3 linked regions of the Homo sapiens genome follow. The protein of the gene in region 1 interacts with the protein of each later gene in a biochemical or structural test. Each region holds a gene or a part of one and is shown in the gene's direction. Other genes may lie near its edges.

Region 1 (7,027 bases):
AGCTGAGGTGCTTATTTCTCTTCTGGAGTTTATATCCTAGAAGCTCTCCAATCGAAGCCCTCTGCAGGTATCCTCAGGTCCTGGAGAAACACAGCAGGAAGGCTTGTTGGCTTCGGAAAGGGAGGGCTATGGTTTAAAGCCAGTAAGATGTGGGTTTGATTCTTGACTTTGTCTCCTGTAGGCTGTGTGGCCTTAAATAAGTTACCTAATCTCTTGAGTCCTCAGTTTCCTCATTTGTAAGGCAGAGGAAACAATGCCTATGATTATGCTGATTAAATGAAACAGAGGCACAAAATAAGTGTTTAATGAATGACAACTACTATTGTCATTATTCTTCCTATCCATGCTATCTGCCATGTATTGGAGGCAAAAGCTGTTACTACTTCATGCATATGCGCTATGCAGGCTTCCAGAATGAAACTGATGGGGTCCCTTTCCCCCACATATGTGAGAGGGGGTCCCTCTTATTTCAACTCGTTCCTCATTGCTGGTTTGGCATATCTCAGCTACTCTAACCCGGCAAGAATCCACAGAAGAAGCCAAGAAGGAAAAAGGCTTATACATTTGCTTTACCCATAAGAAAACCTCAAGCCCTGTATCTGAAAAAAGAGGAAGATAAAAGGATCTATAAGACTTCAAGTTCCATGAGAAGAGGGACATGTCTATTTTGTTCAATACTCTATGCCCACTGCCTGGCACATAGGCAGCAAAACAAATATCTGTGGAATGCTATGTAAAGGCATCTATAGATGATGTGCCTCCCTTTAAGAAACCCAATATTTGAATATTTGCACTCATTCATACAAGATCCTCAAGTGCTCCGTTTGGATAATCTGGAGGGTATGAAAACATAGCCAAGATCATGAATTCTTTGGGCATTTGGGCCGCTGCACTGTTGCACCATTTAGACCTGTGATCTGAGAGTGTGAAAAACTCAAGGGATCCTCTGTAAAGTGTCTGCCTTTTTTTCCCTCCTGGGAGGAGCCGTTAGAAGGGCAACATTCTCCTTTCTCCCCCTTGGACGTGTGGGTGTTGGGGCAAGGGTGAGGAGTGACAGAGGTCTCCTGGGAAGACCATAAGATGGGGCAAGCACACCACAGTGAGGAGGGGGAGTCTGGCTATGACTTTAGAATTTCCTGATCGAAATTTCTCCTCTAAAGCTCCCCACCCTACTTGGGATCTGAGGTTATCATCCCCTCCCAGTCCCAAGAACCCTTCTTCCCTTGTTGGCAGAAATCTCCAGGAAGCATGCCCACAGGAACCACAACTCATGAATCAGAAGACAGATAATTAACCGAGGGAGTGACTGAGCAGCTTCAGGGATGAACCGCTTCGTTTTACCCAGCCCTCTCTGCTGCCCACAGAGTGGGCTGCTCCACCCCATCGCCTCTGCTCCCTCTTCCTGAACCTTGGCCCTTCCTGAGTGGGACCTTCATTGTGCCTGATGGAGCTCAGGCCACTAGTGGAAATGAAGGTGGGAGCAGGGAAATGACTCTGTTTAGGGGAACTGCCTATTCCCCGTGTGGGAACTGCTGGCATTTATTGAAACGTGAGACTCTCCAGCAAAAAAGTGATAGCATCTGCCTTTCTGTCCACACACACAGTCTCACCAAAAACACTCTTTTTTTTTTTTTGTTAGATAATTCAGGTATAATTTATGTACAGTAAAATTCACCCTTTTTAGTGCATACAGTTCTATGAATTTTGACAAATGCATATAGTCAAGTAACCATTGCCATCATCAAGATACAGAATTTTTCCATCATCCCCTAAAATTCCCCCAAGCTCTTTTTTTCCCTTCTTTTTCTTTCTAGAGGCAGGGTCTCACCATATTGCCCAGGCTGGTCTCGAACTTCTGAGCTCAGGCAATCTGCCCACCTCGGCCTCCCAAAGTGTTGGGATTACAGGCGTGAGCTACTGTGCCAGGTGCCCCCCCAGCTCTTTTGTAATCGATACCCTACCCTCAACCCTCGTCGGTTGCAACTGCTGATCTATTTCCTGTCCCTGCAGTTCTATGTTTTACAAAATGTCATATAAATGAAAGCATGCAGTGTATAGACTTTCAGTCTGGCTTCTTTCACTTAGCACAATACATTTGGGGTTAATCTATGATGCTGCATCTATCAGTAACTCTAAGACATTGTCTGAGGCCACTCCGTCATCCTCCGTGTTGGAACAGTTACCCTGAAAGCAGTGGGACTGGATCCGTTAAACTTTGGAGGTGCTCCCCAGCTTTCAGCTTCTAAATTTTATAATTGGATAGATGTATTTAGCTATATATAAGTCATTAGATTTTCCATGTGCTAAGTAGTTAAAGACTTCAGGATACTAGAGAGGATTCTGTAGCAACCAACACTTATTATTCTTGCTCATAGGAGTAACAGATATTTTGTGGCCAAATATTGTATGTCATGATGCTTGGAGTCAGAAGTTGTTAAGTAAACCTGGGGGCTATTCTACCTTTTTACATTTTTGGTAGCATCTCTGAAAAAACAACCCACTTGACTTTTTTTTTTTCCTTTTTTTTGGGAGGGTGGGTGGGTGGGTGGCTTTTTGGCCAAAACCAGAAAGCTTGCTAGACAAATTCTAACACTAGATCTAACACTAGATGTCTTATTTCTGTTTTTCTGTCATGTTCCCATGAAAAGACTATTTACTTACCCCCCTCTCTCGGTTTTATAGTTGAGTTAGTTCAATTTCTTAGTTCAGTTAGTGAAGATGTTTAAATATTCAAGGAGAGAAAGAAAAAGAACAAGGTGATACACATTTTAAAAAAGTCAAAATAACAAATATTGTTATTTCTTGGCTGGGCGCGGTGGCTCATGCCTGTAATCCCAGCACTTTGGGAGGCCGAGGCGGGCGGATCACCTGAGGTCAGGAGTTCAAGACCAGCCTGACCAACATGGAGAAACCCTGTCTCTACTAAAAATACAAAATCAGCTGGGCATGGTGGCATGCGTCTGTAATCCCAGCTACTCGGGAGGCTGAGGCAGGAGAATCGCTTGAACCCAGGAGGCAGAGGTTGCAGTGAGCCGAGATTGTGCCATTGCACTCCAGCCTGAGCAACAAGAGCAAAACTCTGTCTCAAAAAACAGAACAAAACAAAACAAATATTGTTATTTCTCAAATAGGTTCATCCACATAGGATCATTGTCAGTCGTTAAAATTGCTGGTTCCCTTCTAATTCTATTCCCCTATAATGTTCATATTAATCAGGTGGTGTGTTCTGTTTAGACATTTCCCCTCGCATTTATGTTTATTTGTGTGTGTGTGTGTATTCCTTTACTTAAACCCATGATATATAGTACTTCCTTTTATATAGAAAAAAGCTCAGTGTGGAAAGAACAACGTATCTGGAATTAAGAAACCTACATTCGATTCACAGTTCTGCAGGCTTTTTCATCAGCTTGCTGGGTGACTTTGAACAAGTGACTTTACCTTTAGGCATCAGTCTCTTGGTGTCCCAGGGGCTGCAAAGTGGGACAGAGAAGATGAAGGGAAATACTTCAATTTGCTCCTGCCCCTTCCCCACCACCTTCAACTGGAACTCCTTTAACTAATTAACAATTTGGAGTTCATGTAAGGATTTCTTTGGGAAAAAAAGAAGATCCTGCTGTTAAAATCAAGCTTGAAAAACTTTGCACTAGAAGAGAGCTCCAGAAGTTTGGCAAAAGACATATTCAGTAGCCACTTAAAAAGTCCCTGTAGTCAACCCTACATCTCTTTGCTAATGGAAATTTTGGATAGAGAAACCTGGGTCTGTGAGATCCACTGATGGCTCCAGACCCCAACTTTAGCCATCGCACGTGTTGAACTCCAGGTTGAGCCTTTGCTGGAGCCGCCTGCAAGGAGCATGTTTGACCAATCCCCAGTGGAGGGGAGGGTGGTGTTTCCTTTCTGGGACTTCCACAAGTTGAGAACAGACCATGCTGCCCTGGGCAGTTCTTGAAGGCTGTGAGAGTGGGCCTGACAAAGTTTATTCCTTTTTTTTTTTCCATTCTCTTTTATTATTATTATTGTTTGAAATTGACAAATAAAAATTATGTATATTTATGATGTACAACATGATGTCTTGAAATATGTGCGCATTGTGGAATGGTTAAATGAAGTTAAATAACATATGCATTACCTCACATACATACTTCTGATTTATTTGTGGTGAGAACACTTAAAAATCTCCTCCCAGCAATTTTCAGGTAGATGACATACGGTTATTAACTATAGTCACCATGTTGTACAGTGGATCTCTTGAACTTATTCCTCTTGTCTAACTGAAAATTTATATCCCTTGACCAGCATCTCCTCATGCAAACCATACCCCAAAGCTCATTTCTGTGTTCCTGCTGAGTTTGCCATTCCAAGAGGTTTTGATGCTGAAGGTGCAGTTTGTGGAAAGCCCAGCAGACTCTGGGGAGCCTACATTTAAATAAATGCAAATGTCGACAGGGAGGCAGAACAGAGGACATTTCAAATTAGCTTTAATTTTCTTTTAGCTTATAAAAGTAATTAAGCTTATTATTTAAAAAAAGGCAGCTCAGAAATATAATGCAGAAAGTACCAGTACCAGTTCCTTGTAGTCTTGTCCTTAAAGATAACCACTGTTGATAGTTACTGCAGAGTTTTTTTCTATGTATTTGTCAACATATATAATTATTTATCATTATTGTTATTTCTCAAATAGGATAATCAATAATAGGATCATTGTCTTTTTTTTTTTTTTTTTTGAGATGGAGTCTCACTCTGTCGCCCAGGCTGGAGTGCAGTTGTGTGATCCCAGCTCACTGCAACCTCCGCCTCCTGGGTTCAAGCAATTCTCCTGCCTCAGATTCCCGAGTAGCTGGGATCACAGGCATTTGCCACCACGCCCAGCTAATTTTTGTGTTTTTGATAGAGACAGGGTTTGGCCATGTTGGCCAGGCTGGTTTTGAACTCCTAACCACAGGTGATCCACCCGCCTCGGCCTCCCAAAGTGCTGGGATTACACGCATAAGCCACCGCACCTGGCCCATTGTCTCTTAATAATATACTCTAGGCATCTTTTTATGTCAGTTTATGGCTTTCCATTATTTATCCCAAGAGCTATAATTCTAGCCATAAGGCATACTCTTTGTTATATGGATATATCAGAATTTACTTAACCAATTCCCTGTTGGCAGACATTGGGATCATTCCCAATTATTTGCTACTACAAATAAAGCTGCAGGGGATATCCTTATTCATTTATTATGCACCTTTGTTCAAGTGTTTCTACAGACTTAATTTCTTGAATGAAAGTTGGTGGGTCGAAGGGCATGCGTATTTTAAATTTAAATTTTAGTAGGTGTTGTCAATTTGTCCTCCCAAACGGTTGAACCAGTTTGCTTTCCTACCAAGACAGGCTGGCAGTAAGGACTGGTGTTAGCACCGCGGCCTGCTGTCCACACCCATAACACATGAGCTGGGGGAGGAAGGCTGCAGAACTGGACAGCAGGATGCCAAGGAGGTCACCAATAGGGCACCCCTGGGCTGAGCCTCGGACAGCTTGGTACAGACCTGCTTCTTCTGTATACTGAATGAGGTGGGGTCGATGCTAATAAAAATTTCCAGAACTCTTGAGATGCAGCGTTTGAGTCAAATATCAGGCCATCAGGAAGAAATGGCCACTTGTGCCTTGTTTGAGGGTTCTCATGCCTTGGGTTGCTAGGCTTCCTAGGGTATGAGTCCCCCTGTTGATGTTTTCTGGCTGGAAGAGTGGATACTTCCAGGACTGGCAGCACCTTGAAGATCATCAAATTTGACACCTGTTTGTTTTACAAAAAAGCAAAAAGGGAGTTCCTGAGAAGTGAAGTGACTTGTCCAAGATCATACAACTGGCTCAGTGGCATTGGTTGGGTCTCTCCCTGGGGACTCTTGTCTCCTGCCCAGAGTGATTTCTTCACTATATCCTGTTAGAGACAAAGGGCCCTTTCACGTCTGACCCTGAGGTGGAGGCGAGGGGATGGGGATTCCTGGTGTAGGAAGTGACTAGAGTGAAAGTAAGGGGGAAGGAAATGAACATTTATTGAGCATCCACTATAGAGGGTTCTTTCATACGTGTTATGTCATTTAATCCTAACAACTCGGGAGCACTGGGGAAAGGAAGCAGCTGTTTGGAGTCTCCGGTGCTTGGCCGATGTGGCTGGTTAGACCCGTTAAATACTACAGAGCAGTTATCACTTCTCGACTATGAATGTGACATAGACTCAAAGAGGCACTGGGCCTTGGAGAGAGCACCAGAGAGATGAAGGGATGTACTTGAGGTCATACGGCCAGAGGAAGGGCAAAGATGGCTTTAGACGTGAGGTTTCCTGCTGCTTTGCATGCTTTTTCTGCCATATCCATCTGTTGTTTTACTGCTCCTGCCTTACCACATTTCTCAGGAGCTGGGTGTTAATTTTAGACCACAACCTTAGAGAAGACAGGACTCTGTCCCTGGAATGGGCTTTATGCAGTCTTCAGCACATGGCGACCTAATTAACCTCATTGGAGATGATAACCAGACATAATGTGGCTTCATTTACAAGGACAGGACCTGCCCTAGATCTTCCCATTAACATCATCTTGAAGTGTCAGCTCCACAGAGAGACCTTTCCTGACCACATGCTTTAAAGGAGACTCCTTCCCTCATTGCTTGCTATTCCCCGCCCCCCCCACCCCCACCCTTTCTTTTCCCTTTGAGGCAGAGTCTCACTCCATCACACAGGCTGGAGTGCAGTGGCACGATCTTGGCTCACTGCAAACTCCGCCTCCCATGTTCAAGCAATTCTCCTGCCTCAGCCTCCCAAGTAGCTGGGATTACAGGTGCGTGCCACCATGCCCAGCTAATTTTTCTAGTTTTAGTAAAGACTGGATTTCGCCATGTTGGCCAGGCTGGTCTTGAACTCCTGACCTCAGGTGATCTACCCGCCTTGGCCTCCCACAGTGCTCAGATTACAGTGTTAGCCACCATGCCCGGCCTATCCTGCTTTATTTTCTTACAGCATGAAGGGTCAATGAAAGGATATGGCCA
Region 2 (6,970 bases), on another chromosome or scaffold:
TCGCTAAACTCCCTAACATCAGGAGCCATCAGGCAAATTATCTCAAGTCTTGATTTACAAACCAAACCCTTATGCCTCTGATTACACAGGGGACCGGTCTGACAAACTTTTTTTTTTTTTTTGAGGTAGGTTTTTGTTGGCTGGAGTGCAGTGGCGCAATCACGGCTCACTGCAGACTTGACCTCCCAGACTCAAGTGATCCTCTCACCTTAGCCTCCCGAATAGCTGGGATTAAAAGTGTGCGCCACCATGCCCGGATAATTTTTTGTTTTTTTGTAGAGACGAGGGATCTCACTATGTTACTCAGGCTGGTTTCGAACTCCTGATCTCAAATGATCCTCACACCTTGGCCTCCCAAAGTGCTGGGATTATAGGTGTGAGCCACCATGTCTGGACACAAATATTCTTTTTCTTTTTTTAATTTAATTTTTCAAATAGAGAATGTATGTTGGCTGGGCACAGTGCCTCATGCCTGTAATCCCAGCACTTTGGGAGGCTGAGGTGAGAGGATCGCTTGAATTCATGAGTTTGAGACCAGCCTGGGCAATCTGGCAAAACCCTGTCTCTACAAAAAATACAAAAATTAGCCCAGCATGGTGGTGTGCACTGGTAGTCCCAGCTATTCCGGGGGCTGAGGTAGGAGAATCACTTGAACCCAGGAGGTGGAGGCTGCAGTGAGCCGAGATTGCATCACTGCACTCCAACCTAGGCAACAGAATGAGACCCCGTCTCAAAAAAAAAAAAAAAAAATAGATGGGATCTTACTGTGTTGCCCAGGCTGGCCTCTAATTCCCAAGCTCAAGTGATCCTCCTGCCCCAGCCTCCCAGAGTGCCGGAACTACAGGCATGAGCCATCACACCCAGCCAATAAACATTCTTTTCTGATAAGCAACTGCAGAACTTAAGCCAGTTTCAGCCAGCTTACAGAAGCTGTGAACAACCTGTTTAGCCAATGCACATGAGCTCACCTCCTCTCATAAATATGTATACAGCTTTTCCCTCAAACCTGCTAAATATGTATGAATATGGGCCCTGTGAGGCATAAAACCCAACCTGTCCTTTCTCTCTTGGAAGAGAGCACCTTCAGTGCATGCTGCAAACCATCTCTTCCTGGTTTGCAAACAAGTATCAACAATAAAGTGCTCCTTTCTACTATTTAGCCACCCTGGTGATCTTCTAGACAACATTATGCGTATTTCTGCTAGGAACATTAGTGTTCAAATCTCTGTGTAGGCAGATGTTTTCATTTTTTGTAGGTAGATATCTCAGGCTGGACTTGCTGGGCCATATGGTAAATTTATGTTTAACTTCTACAGATTTTGTGAAGTGGTTATACTGTCTTATATCCCCACCAGTAGTGAATGTGGGTTCATATATATATATAGTTTTTTTTTTTTTTTTTTTTGAGACAGTCTTACTCTGTCACCCAGGCTGGAGTGCCGTGGCACAATCGCGGCTCACTGCAACCTCCGCCTCCCAGGTTCAAGCCATTCTCCTGCCTCAGCCTCTCGAGTAGCTGGGATTACAGGTGCCCACCACCACACCCGGCTAATTTTTTTCTATTTTTAATAGAGACGGGGTTTCACCATGTTAGCCAGGCTGGTTTCAAATTCCTGACCTCAACTGATCCGCCCGCCTTGGCCTCCCAAAGTGCTGGGATTACAGGCCTGAGACGTCGTGCCCGGCCTCATTTCATTTTTTAGAGCATCACAAACTACCTCTCCAGCTCATCTTGCTAGAGTTACTGCATAATCCATGCATTCCTGCCAAGGATCAGCCATCTTCTTGAGTCGGAGGGCTTCCTGCTAGCTCGGTGCCTGGTGTTATCACCCTCGGCTCTTCTGGAGGTAGAGGGGCTACCTATCTTCTTTTCATTCTTTTTTTTTTTTTTTTTTAATTTGAGACAGAGTTTCACTCTTGTTGCCCAGGCTGGAGTGCAATGGTGCGATTTTGGCTCACCACGACCTCCGCCTCCCGGGTTCAAGCGATTCTCCTGCCTCAGCCTCCCGAGCAGCTGGGATTACAGGTATGCGCCACCATGCCCGGCTAATTTTGTATTTTTAGTAGAGACGGGGTTTCTCCATGTTGGTCAGGCTGGTCTGGAACTCCCGACCTCAGGTGATCCGCCTGCCTGGACCTCCCAAAGTGCTGGGATTACAGACGTAAGCCACCGCGCCCAGCCAATTTTTGTATTTTTAGTAGAGACGGGGTTTCGCCATGTTGCCCAAGCTGATCTTGAACTCCTGACCTCAGGTGATCCACCCGCCTCGGCCTCCCAAAGTGCTGGGATTACAGGCGTGGGCCACTGCGCCCGGCCCCAGTTTTTCTAAGTTATATAGTTTAGGTTTCACAACTAGATCTATGATCCATTCTAGGTTAATTTTTGCATATGGGTTTCTTTTTTTTTTTTTTAGGATGAGTGTGTGGATATCCAATTATACCTACAACATTTGTTGAAGACACCATCTCTTCTTGTTTTCCCAAGTTTCCACACACATTATTGATAAAATAAATTTTTTTGGGGGGGGTGCTGGGTGTCGCTGGGCTGTAACTCCTTACCTCAAGCCATCTGCCCACCTCGGCATCCCAAAGCGCTGGGATTACAGGCGTGAGCCACCGCCCCGGGCCGAAGGCATTATCCTTTCTCCACTGAATTGCACTTTCATTTTTGTCAAAAATTAATTGCTCACATATCGGAACTCTATTCTGTTGCATTGATCCATTTGTCTACCTGGACGCCAATACCACACTTTCTTTCTTTTTTAAATTAATTTATTTATTGAGACAGGGTCTCTCAGTCAGGGTGGAGTGCAGTGGTGCAATCAAAGCTCACCACAGCCTCAGCCTCTTGGACTCAGGTGATCCTCCCATCTCAGCCTCCCGAGTAGCTGGACTACAGGTACGTGCCTGGCTCATTTTTTGTAGAGACGGGGTTTTGCCATGTTGCCCAGGCTGGGTATCTTTTTTTTTTTTTTCTTTTTTGAGATGGAGTCTTGCGTCTTGCTCTGTCATCCAGGCTGGAGTGCAGTGGCGCGATCTCGGTTCACTGCAATCTCTGCCTCCCTAGTAGCTGGGTTCAAGCGATTCTCCTGCCTCAGCCTCCCTAGTAGCTGGGATTACAGGCGCCGGCCACCTCGCCCGGCTAATTTTTGTATTTTTAGGTTTACTGGCGTGAGCAACCGCGGCCGGCCCCAATACTACACTTTCTTGTTTACTGTGTAGTCCTTATCTTCTGGCGCAAAGCGGGCACTCGCTAAAAACCTGAATGAAAGTATAAAGCAGGCCGGGCGCAGTGGCTCATGCCTGTAATCCCAGCATTTTGGGAGGCCGGGGCGGGCGGATCACGAGGTCAGGAGTTCGAGACCAGCCTGGCCAACATAGTGAAACCCTGTCTCTACTAAAAATACAAAAAAAAAAAAAAAAAAAAAAAAAAAAAAAAAAAAAGCCGGGCATGGTGGCGCTCGCCTGTAGTCCCAGCTACTCGGGAGGCTGAGGCAGGAGAATCAATCGCTTGAACTCGGGAGGCAGAGATTGTGGTGAGCCGAGATCGCGCCACTGCACTCCAGCCTGGGCAACAGAGTGAGACTCCGTCTCCAAAAAAAAAAAAAAAAAGAAAAGTATGAAACGATGAGTACAATGAGTAGCCAGCCGCCTGCCCCACCTACCCCGCCGCTCCGGACTGCCGCCTGCGCCGAGCCTAGGCCGCCCAGCCTGACTGAAACTGCCGCTGCTGAACTCAGCGTATCCAGTCCCGCAGCTGACCAATCGGAGCTCGCCCTTCCGGGGCCCGCCCCATTCCAGGAATCGACCTCCGCACCGGCCTCGAAAATTGACCAATCGGTTGTGTAGCTCCGCTCTTAGTCCCGCCCCCACGCTGAAACTGACACTTCGGATCGCCGAGTAACGCTCACCAGACGTCCCGGCCCTGCCCCTCACCTGACCAATCAAGACGGCCGGCCGAGGCCCCTGGAACGGCTCAGGCGGCTGCGGCTGCTACGGCGGCGCATGCTAGGGGATTCTGCCGGGTGAGTGCTGGGCGGCAGGACTGGGGTGGGGCGGAAGGGCTCGGCAGGAGGCCCCACGTGCATTCCCGCGAGGGGCTCGGGGGCCGCAGTGGAAAAGAAGGGTAGGCTGCATCTGCCTCTGCGGGGGTCCCGCCTCGGCGTCCGCCCGCTCGCCCTCTGTTACTTCTGCGGCCCCGGTGTTTCTGGAGCGTCGCTTTCCCGGTGTCTCCGCTCAGCTTTTCCCTTTCCAAAGCGCGGCCGGGGCCAGGGGAGGGCAAGGCCTGCTGTGCCCTTTGACCCCGTGCGAAAACGGCGACCCTCTGACTATAGGGGTGTGGCCCAGAGCCACTTGGCCAGTTAGGGGTGGGGGCCGGGATCTTTGTCCTGCGGATCAAACAGTTGGCCCCTCTGGACTGCATCTCCGTGCCCCCCGGCCCTGCGGGGTAATATACGTGTGTGGGGGAGGTTCCGGGGTAGTCGGCTACTCTGTGCTCCAGACCTTGCACCCGATCCTGAGGATCCTTGGAGGTGGGGGGCAAGGGCTGGGAGGAGGAGGCGGAGTTTTCCCAGGCTCCCCCACACTTCCAGGGAAAGGCTTTCCAAGAACCCTGAACTCATGGACCCTGGAGTCAAATTTTGGTTCAGATCTAGCCTCTTGCTAGCTGTGTGACTTGGGGCAAGTTGCTTAACTTCCCTGAGCTTTGGTTTCTTCATATGTAAAAAGAAAGTGAAGGAGGAAGGGAGGGCAGGAAAGGAGGAAGAATCCCTTTTGAAGCCTGATTTGTGTTGGACTCACCAGTTATAAAGCAAGCTTGTCCAAACCACTGCCCAGGAGGCGGAGGTTGCAGTGAGCCAAGAAAAAAAGGAAGCATGCCCTTGCCCCAGCCATTTTGGTAATAATAGACGTTTATTGAATGCTTACTGTATACCACTGTAAGCACTGTATTAAGTAAGCACTGTACTGAGTGCTTTGTTTTTTGTATTTTGTGTGTGTGTGTGACAGTCTTGCTCTGTCACCCAGGCTGGAGTGCAGTAGTGTGATCTCCACTCACTACAACCTCCGCCTCCCAGGTTCAAGCGATTCTCCTGCCTCAGCAGCCTCCTGAGTAGCTGGGATTACTGGCGCCCACCACCACACCCGGCTAATTGTTTGTTGTTGTTGCTGTTTTTGAGACGGAGTCTCACCCTGTCGCCCAGGCTGGAGCGCAATGGTGCGATCTCGGCTCACCGCAACCTCTGCCTCCCGGGTTCAGGTGATTCTCCTGCCTCAGCCTCCCGAGTAGCTGGGATTACAGGCGCGTGCCACCACGCCCGGCTAATTTTTGCATTTTTAGTAGCGACGAGGTCTCTCGCCACGTTGGCTAGGCTCATCTCAAACTCCTGACCTCAGGTGATCCTCCTGCCTCAGCCTCCCAAAGTGCTGGGATTACAGACGTGAGCCACTTGGCCTGTTTTTTGTTTTTTTTACAGTGATGCAACCATGGCTCACTGCAGCCTGGGTCTCCTGGGCTAAAGCTATCCTCCTGAGTAGCTGGGGCCACAGACAAGTGCCACCATGGCCAGCTAATTAAATTTTTTTTTGGCCAGGCACTGTAGCTCATGCCTGTAATCCCAGCACTTTGGGAGACCGAGGCAGGCGGATCACAAGGTCATGAGATCGAGACCATCCTGGCTAACACGGTGAAACCCCGTCTCTACTAAAAATACAAAAAATTAGCTGGGCGTGGTGGCAGGCGCCTGTAGTCCCAGCTACTCAGGAGGCTGAGGCAGGAGAATGGCGTGAACCCGGGAGGCGGAGCTTGCAGTGAGCCGAGATTGCGCCACTGCACTCCAGCCTGGGCGACAGAGCAAGACTCCATCTCAAAAAAAAAAAACAAAAAAACAAAACAAAAAAAAATGTTTCTACAAATGTTGTCCAGGCTTAACATGCTTTCTTTAATTCTAACAACAATCGTATGAGGTAGATACTGTTGTCGTCCAGCAGATGAGGAAACTGAGGCACAGAGAAGTTAAATAACTTGCCTGAGGCAGTACAGTTAAAGAGTGTCGAATGGGGGTCTCTGGCACCACAGGGCACCCTACTGAGCCCCGTGTCCTGCTGTCTTGACTTCAGGTAGAAGAGCTGGGCCTGGAACCCAGCCCTGAGGACATCCTGCGGCCCAGGGGCAAGTGACACCTGCTGAGAGAGGCCCAGGATGGTGGAGGCTGAGGAACTGGCACAGCTGCGGCTGCTCAATCTGGAGCTCCTGAGGCAGCTGTGGGTGGGGCAGGATGCTGTGCGGCGGTCAGTGGCCAGGGCAGCCTCGGAGGTGCGTGCCCGCCTTGGGAACCCCAGAGGAAGGGGCTACCTGACCTTCAGGCCAGCATCCAGGCTTCTGGGCTCATCTTGTTCAATACACCCATTTTACTGATGATGGGACATTGAGGGCTGGGGAGGGAAGAGACTGGCCTTGGTCACTGCTGAGGCCGGAGCAGGATGAGGATGCTTGCCTTGGTGCCTGGCGTAGGCCCGGTGGGTAGGTTCTGGCAGCCACTCCCTGGGTGACCCGGCCCCTCTCTCCAGTCAAGCCTGGAATCCAGCAGCAGCTACAACTCAGAGACTCCATCGACCCCAGAGACGTCCTCAACTTCCTTGAGCACCTCCTGCCCACGGGGCCGGTCCTCCGTGTGGGGCCCACCAGATGCCTGTCGAGGGGACCTCCGTGATGTGGCCAGATCGGGGGTGGCCTCTCTCCCACCTGCCAAATGCCAGCACCAGGAGTCCCTGGGCCGACCGAGACCCCACTCAGCACCCTCGCTGGGCACCTCAAGCCTGAGGGACCCAGAGCCCTCAGGGAGGCTGGGTGATCCAGGACCCCAGGAGGCACAGACCCCGAGGTCCATCCTGGCTCAACAGAGCAAGCTGTCCAAGGTAACGTGGGAGAGCGGGACATCTGCTGATGGGAGGAGCTTCCTTGGGCCTCAGT
Region 3 (6,020 bases), on another chromosome or scaffold:
GCCAACAGGTGAAACCCCATCTCTACTAAAAATACAAAAAGTAGCCGGGCGTGGTGGCGCATGCCTGTAATTCCAGCTACTCGGGAGGCTGTGGCAGGAGAATCGTTTGAACACGGGAGGCGGAGGTTGCGGTTAGCCGAGATCGCGCCATTGCACTCCAGCTTGGGCAACGAGCAAAACTCCATCTCAAAAAAAAAAAAAAAAAAAAAAAAAATTAGCCAGGCATTGTTCATGCCTGTAATCCCAGCTGCTTGGGAGGCTGAGGCAGGAGAATCACTTGAATCCAGAAGGCAGAGGTTGCAGTGAGCCGAAATTGCGCCACTGCACTCCAGCCTGGGCAACAGAGTGAGACTCCATCTCAAAATAAACAGACAAACTGGGGCTCTTACCCCAATGTTGCTCGGGAATTTTCTGGACTATGCTGGGAGTAATTATTTCTCTGATTTTTTTTGGGTAGTAGAATGGATTTCCCAGGTCCCCTAAGAGGAGGCAGGAGATGGGAGGTTGGCCGGGGTGTGCTGCTGGGGGTGGGGTTTCTTTGAGGTGAAGCCAAACCTGCTCACCTGCTGCTGGCCCCATGGCCTCTTCTCCTGTGCCTGCAGGTCCCTTGTATGTCATCGTGGAGTATGCCTCCAAGGGCAACCTGCGGGAGTACCTGCAGGCCCGGAGGCCCCCAGGGCTGGAATACTGCTACAACCCCAGCCACAACCCAGAGGAGCAGCTCTCCTCCAAGGACCTGGTGTCCTGCGCCTACCAGGTGGCCCGAGGCATGGAGTATCTGGCCTCCAAGAAGGTGTGGAACCTGAAGGCTCCCCTGGGTAATGCCAGGGTGGGAACAGAGCCCCCCTAGTCTTCCAGCCTGTGACTTATCATCTTGTGGTGGCGTTGTGGATGCACTGAGCACTGGCCCTGTGTGCCCTGTGTGTTGTCTTAGGCTCTCTGGGAACTGCAGAGTCAGGAGCACCAGTGTAGCCAGGTGGCCTTGGGGTCAGACTGATGCAGGGTCCGATCTGTGCACTGCCACTTTCTGCGTAGCCTCAGGCAGCTACTTAGCATCTTAAAATTCTTCAAATACAAAATAATAATAATATCAGCTGGGTGCAGTGGCCAAGGCGGGAGGATTGCTTGAGCTCAGGAGTGTGAGACCAGGTTGGGCAATATATTGAAACCCCGTCTTTAAAAAAAAAAAAAAAATTAAAAAATTAGCTGGGTGTGGTAGTGCGTGCCGATAGTCCCAGCTACTCGGGAGGCTGAGGTGGGAGGCTAGCTTGAGCCCAAGAGTTTGAGGCTGCACTGAGCCATGATCACACCACTGCACCCCAGCCGGGGCGACAGAGCAAGGCCCTGTCTCAAAAGAAAATAAAGTATAACAATACCTGTTGTAGAATTGTTATGAAGATAAAATGAAACTGTCTGTGAGTGTTGAGTGCAGTGTTTGGTGTGTAAGGGCTGGCCTGGTTTGAGCCCAGCCCCATGTGGACTTGCTGTGCTGGGAGGCAGGACCTAGGAGCATGCATCGCTGCAGACGCAGCAGAGGCATAAGGGGCCAGTCTTTGGGGAAGGAAGGGAGGAGCGCTTGCTGTGATGAGAAGCCTGGAGCTGGCAGAGAATGTTAGAAGAGGGAAAGCAAAGGTTCGGGGGGCAGAGCAGTGTGGCAGAAGTTCTATGAGACAAGTCGGCTAGTTGCATGGGTGGCGGCCGCCCAGAGCCTTCCAGCTCCCTCACCTCCCCGCCTCCCGCTCTCCCTTCCTCCTTCCTCAGTGCATACACCGAGACCTGGCAGCCAGGAATGTCCTGGTGACAGAGGACAATGTGATGAAGATAGCAGACTTTGGCCTCGCACGGGACATTCACCACATCGACTACTATAAAAAGACAACCAACGTGAGTGCCGACAAGGCCGCCCTGTGCTGGTGGTTTCATCTGAGAAGCAAGGAGTGGGGTGGGCTGAGAACCCACCCCCCAGTCCCTTCCCACCTGTGCCCTCATGGCCCTGCCTGGGGCCACTCCAACCTCCCCTGTGCTGCTTTCAGGGCCGACTGCCTGTGAAGTGGATGGCACCCGAGGCATTATTTGACCGGATCTACACCCACCAGAGTGATGTGTGAGTTTGTAATAGCAATTGCCAGGGAGGTGTGGGATAGAGAGCTTCTAGCACTGTAGAGTCCTGCTTTCTCCCTGGACTGAGGAGTCCTCTTTCTGCCCCAGAGAGAAAAACAAAACATTGTCTGTGGCCATTCCCTCTGCTCCAGATGTTGAAAGGCTGATCTGTTCTCCATGCTGTCTCCTGGCACTGCCCTGGGTAGAGGATTTGTGCTGGGGGAGGGGAGGCGGAGAAGCTCTAACACCCTGTGGCTCTCCGCCCATTTGCAGGTGGTCTTTCGGGGTGCTCCTGTGGGAGATCTTCACTCTGGGCGGCTCCCCATACCCCGGTGTGCCTGTGGAGGAACTTTTCAAGCTGCTGAAGGAGGGTCACCGCATGGACAAGCCCAGTAACTGCACCAACGAGCTGTAAGCCCGAGGAGATGTCGGAGGCCCTGAGCCAGGCCTTGGGGCAAGAGTGGGCTTGAGGGGCAGGGGGCTAGACTAGAGAGTATCCATCTCCAGGAGACGTCCCTGACCTTACAGTCCTGCCGCAGGTACATGATGATGCGGGACTGCTGGCATGCAGTGCCCTCACAGAGACCCACCTTCAAGCAGCTGGTGGAAGACCTGGACCGCATCGTGGCCTTGACCTCCAACCAGGTAAGGCTGCCCGTGCCAGAGCCAGAGCTCAGGCCGTCCCCACTGCGTGCACGCACCTCCCTGAGCAGGGAGGAGGGGCCCGGCCCATCGCTGCTTCCTCTCGCCCATCACAGGAGTACCTGGACCTGTCCATGCCCCTGGACCAGTACTCCCCCAGCTTTCCCGACACCCGGAGCTCTACGTGCTCCTCAGGGGAGGATTCCGTCTTCTCTCATGAGCCGCTGCCCGAGGAGCCCTGCCTGCCCCGACACCCAGCCCAGCTTGCCAATGGCGGACTCAAACGCCGCTGACTGCCACCCACACGCCCTCCCCAGACTCCACCGTCAGCTGTAACCCTCACCCACAGCCCCTGCTGGGCCCACCACCTGTCCGTCCCTGTCCCCTTTCCTGCTGGCAGGAGCCGGCTGCCTACCAGGGGCCTTCCTGTGTGGCCTGCCTTCACCCCACTCAGCTCACCTCTCCCTCCACCTCCTCTCCACCTGCTGGTGAGAGGTGCAAAGAGGCAGATCTTTGCTGCCAGCCACTTCATCCCCTCCCAGATGTTGGACCAACACCCCTCCCTGCCACCAGGCACTGCCTGGAGGGCAGGGAGTGGGAGCCAATGAACAGGCATGCAAGTGAGAGCTTCCTGAGCTTTCTCCTGTCGGTTTGGTCTGTTTTGCCTTCACCCATAAGCCCCTCGCACTCTGGTGGCAGGTGCCTTGTCCTCAGGGCTACAGCAGTAGGGAGGTCAGTGCTTCGTGCCTCGATTGAAGGTGACCTCTGCCCCAGATAGGTGGTGCCAGTGGCTTATTAATTCCGATACTAGTTTGCTTTGCTGACCAAATGCCTGGTACCAGAGGATGGTGAGGCGAAGGCCAGGTTGGGGGCAGTGTTGTGGCCCTGGGGCCCAGCCCCAAACTGGGGGCTCTGTATATAGCTATGAAGAAAACACAAAGTGTATAAATCTGAGTATATATTTACATGTCTTTTTAAAAGGGTCGTTACCAGAGATTTACCCATCGGGTAAGATGCTCCTGGTGGCTGGGAGGCATCAGTTGCTATATATTAAAAACAAAAAAGAAAAAAAAGGAAAATGTTTTTAAAAAGGTCATATATTTTTTGCTACTTTTGCTGTTTTATTTTTTTAAATTATGTTCTAAACCTATTTTCAGTTTAGGTCCCTCAATAAAAATTGCTGCTGCTTCATTTATCTATGGGCTGTATGAAAAGGGTGGGAATGTCCACTGGAAAGAAGGGACACCCACGGGCCCTGGGGCTAGGTCTGTCCCGAGGGCACCGCATGCTCCCGGCGCAGGTTCCTTGTAACCTCTTCTTCCTAGGTCCTGCACCCAGACCTCACGACGCACCTCCTGCCTCTCCGCTGCTTTTGGAAAGTCAGAAAAAGAAGATGTCTGCTTCGAGGGCAGGAACCCCATCCATGCAGTAGAGGCGCTGGGCAGAGAGTCAAGGCCCAGCAGCCATCGACCATGGATGGTTTCCTCCAAGGAAACCGGTGGGGTTGGGCTGGGGAGGGGGCACCTACCTAGGAATAGCCACGGGGTAGAGCTACAGTGATTAAGAGGAAAGCAAGGGCGCGGTTGCTCACGCCTGTAATCCCAGCACTTTGGGACACCGAGGTGGGCAGATCACTTCAGGTCAGGAGTTTGAGACCAGCCTGGCCAACTTAGTGAAACCCCATCTCTACTAAAAATGCAAAAATTATCCAGGCATGGTGGCACACGCCTGTAATCCCAGCTCCACAGGAGGCTGAGGCAGAATCCCTTGAAGCTGGGAGGCGGAGGTTGCAGTGAGCCGAGATTGCGCCATTGCACTCCAGCCTGGGCAACAGAGAAAACAAAAAGGAAAACAAATGATGAAGGTCTGCAGAAACTGAAACCCAGACATGTGTCTGCCCCCTCTATGTGGGCATGGTTTTGCCAGTGCTTCTAAGTGCAGGAGAACATGTCACCTGAGGCTAGTTTTGCATTCAGGTCCCTGGCTTCGTTTCTTGTTGGTATGCCTCCCCAGATCGTCCTTCCTGTATCCATGTGACCAGACTGTATTTGTTGGGACTGTCGCAGATCTTGGCTTCTTACAGTTCTTCCTGTCCAAACTCCATCCTGTCCCTCAGGAACGGGGGGAAAATTCTCCGAATGTTTTTGGTTTTTTGGCTGCTTGGAATTTACTTCTGCCACCTGCTGGTCATCACTGTCCTCACTAAGTGGATTCTGGCTCCCCCGTACCTCATGGCTCAAACTACCACTCCTCAGTCGCTATATTAAAGCTTATATTTTGCTGGATTACTGCTAAATACAAAAGAAAGTTCAATATGTTTTCATTTCTGTAGGGAAAATGGGATTGCTGCTTTAAATTTCTGAGCTAGGGATTTTTTGGCAGCTGCAGTGTTGGCGACTATTGTAAAATTCTCTTTGTTTCTCTCTGTAAATAGCACCTGCTAACATTACAATTTGTATTTATGTTTAAAGAAGGCATCATTTGGTGAACAGAACTAGGAAATGAATTTTTAGCTCTTAAAAGCATTTGCTTTGAGACCGCACAGGAGTGTCTTTCCTTGTAAAACAGTGATGATAATTTCTGCCTTGGCCCTACCTTGAAGCAATGTTGTGTGAAGGGATGAAGAATCTAAAAGTCTTCATAAGTCCTTGGGAGAGGTGCTAGAAAAATATAAGGCACTATCATAATTACAGTGATGTCCTTGCTGTTACTACTCAAATCACCCACAAATTTCCCCAAAGACTGCGCTAGCTGTCAAATAAAAGACAGTGAAATTGACCTGAGAGAAAATGAAATGGCCGTTTTACTTAGAGGACCAAATTGGGTCTCCTGAGGAAAGGAATCCAGTTTATCTAATGAAGATGTTGTGCCATGAAGGCACTGAGTCTGTCTGGTTTCCTGAGGGTTAAAAGATTAGGGCTGGGATCACCACAGCATTAATCAATACTGCCTTTCCGTCTCTTCTAATTGCCATAGGCTGGAGATCATCGGTCCCTTGGCCCTGCTAATGTAATGTATTGATCTCAGGTAAGTAAGATTGAGCATCAAATGAGGCAAGAAATCTGTCTCATTGTTAATGAGGTTGCTGTGCTTATTCGCCACCACTGGGTGGAGCCAGCGAGCTGAAGTTTCAGTTGGCATTAGGTGAAGCACCAGTCCGCTCTCAAGTCACATTGGTCCAACTACTACCTGCTAGTGTGTGCTGGTGGTGAGTGGGAAATCTTTAGCCTAGATTTGGCATTACAGAAAAACTGGGCAGCACTGATGTGGCTCGTTTT

Evidence for each region. The genes of interacting proteins can lie anywhere in the genome.
Region 2: the proteins of ITGB3 (region 1) and MIIP form a complex in vitro, tested with the Homo sapiens proteins (one study listed by BioGRID).
Region 3: the proteins of ITGB3 (region 1) and FGFR1 form a complex in vitro, tested with the Homo sapiens proteins (one study listed by BioGRID).

What each region holds. Positions count from the first base shown.
Region 1 is NC_000017.11:47,256,814-47,263,840, forward strand, and holds part of ITGB3 (integrin beta-3 precursor), read left to right. Parts: intron 1-7,027. UniProt on the Homo sapiens protein: Integrin alpha-V/beta-3 (ITGAV:ITGB3) is a receptor for cytotactin, fibronectin, laminin, matrix metalloproteinase-2, osteopontin, osteomodulin, prothrombin, thrombospondin, vitronectin and von Willebrand factor.
Region 2 is NC_000001.11:12,015,528-12,022,497, forward strand, and holds the start of MIIP (migration and invasion-inhibitory protein), read left to right. Parts: upstream 1-3,970; 5' UTR 3,971-4,025; exon of another isoform or gene 4,026-4,447; intron 4,448-6,117; 5' UTR 6,118-6,199; coding exon 6,200-6,313; intron 6,314-6,567; coding exon 6,568-6,915; intron 6,916-6,970.
Region 3 is NC_000008.11:38,410,643-38,416,662, reverse strand, and holds the end of FGFR1 (fibroblast growth factor receptor 1 isoform 1 precursor), read left to right. Parts: intron 1-602; coding exon 603-793; intron 794-1,761; coding exon 1,762-1,884; intron 1,885-2,033; coding exon 2,034-2,104; intron 2,105-2,373; coding exon 2,374-2,511; intron 2,512-2,639; coding exon 2,640-2,745; intron 2,746-2,858; coding exon 2,859-3,035; 3' UTR 3,036-4,067; coding exon of another isoform or gene 4,068-4,274; 3' UTR 4,275-5,520; downstream 5,521-6,020. UniProt on the Homo sapiens protein: Tyrosine-protein kinase that acts as a cell-surface receptor for fibroblast growth factors and plays an essential role in the regulation of embryonic development, cell proliferation, differentiation and migration.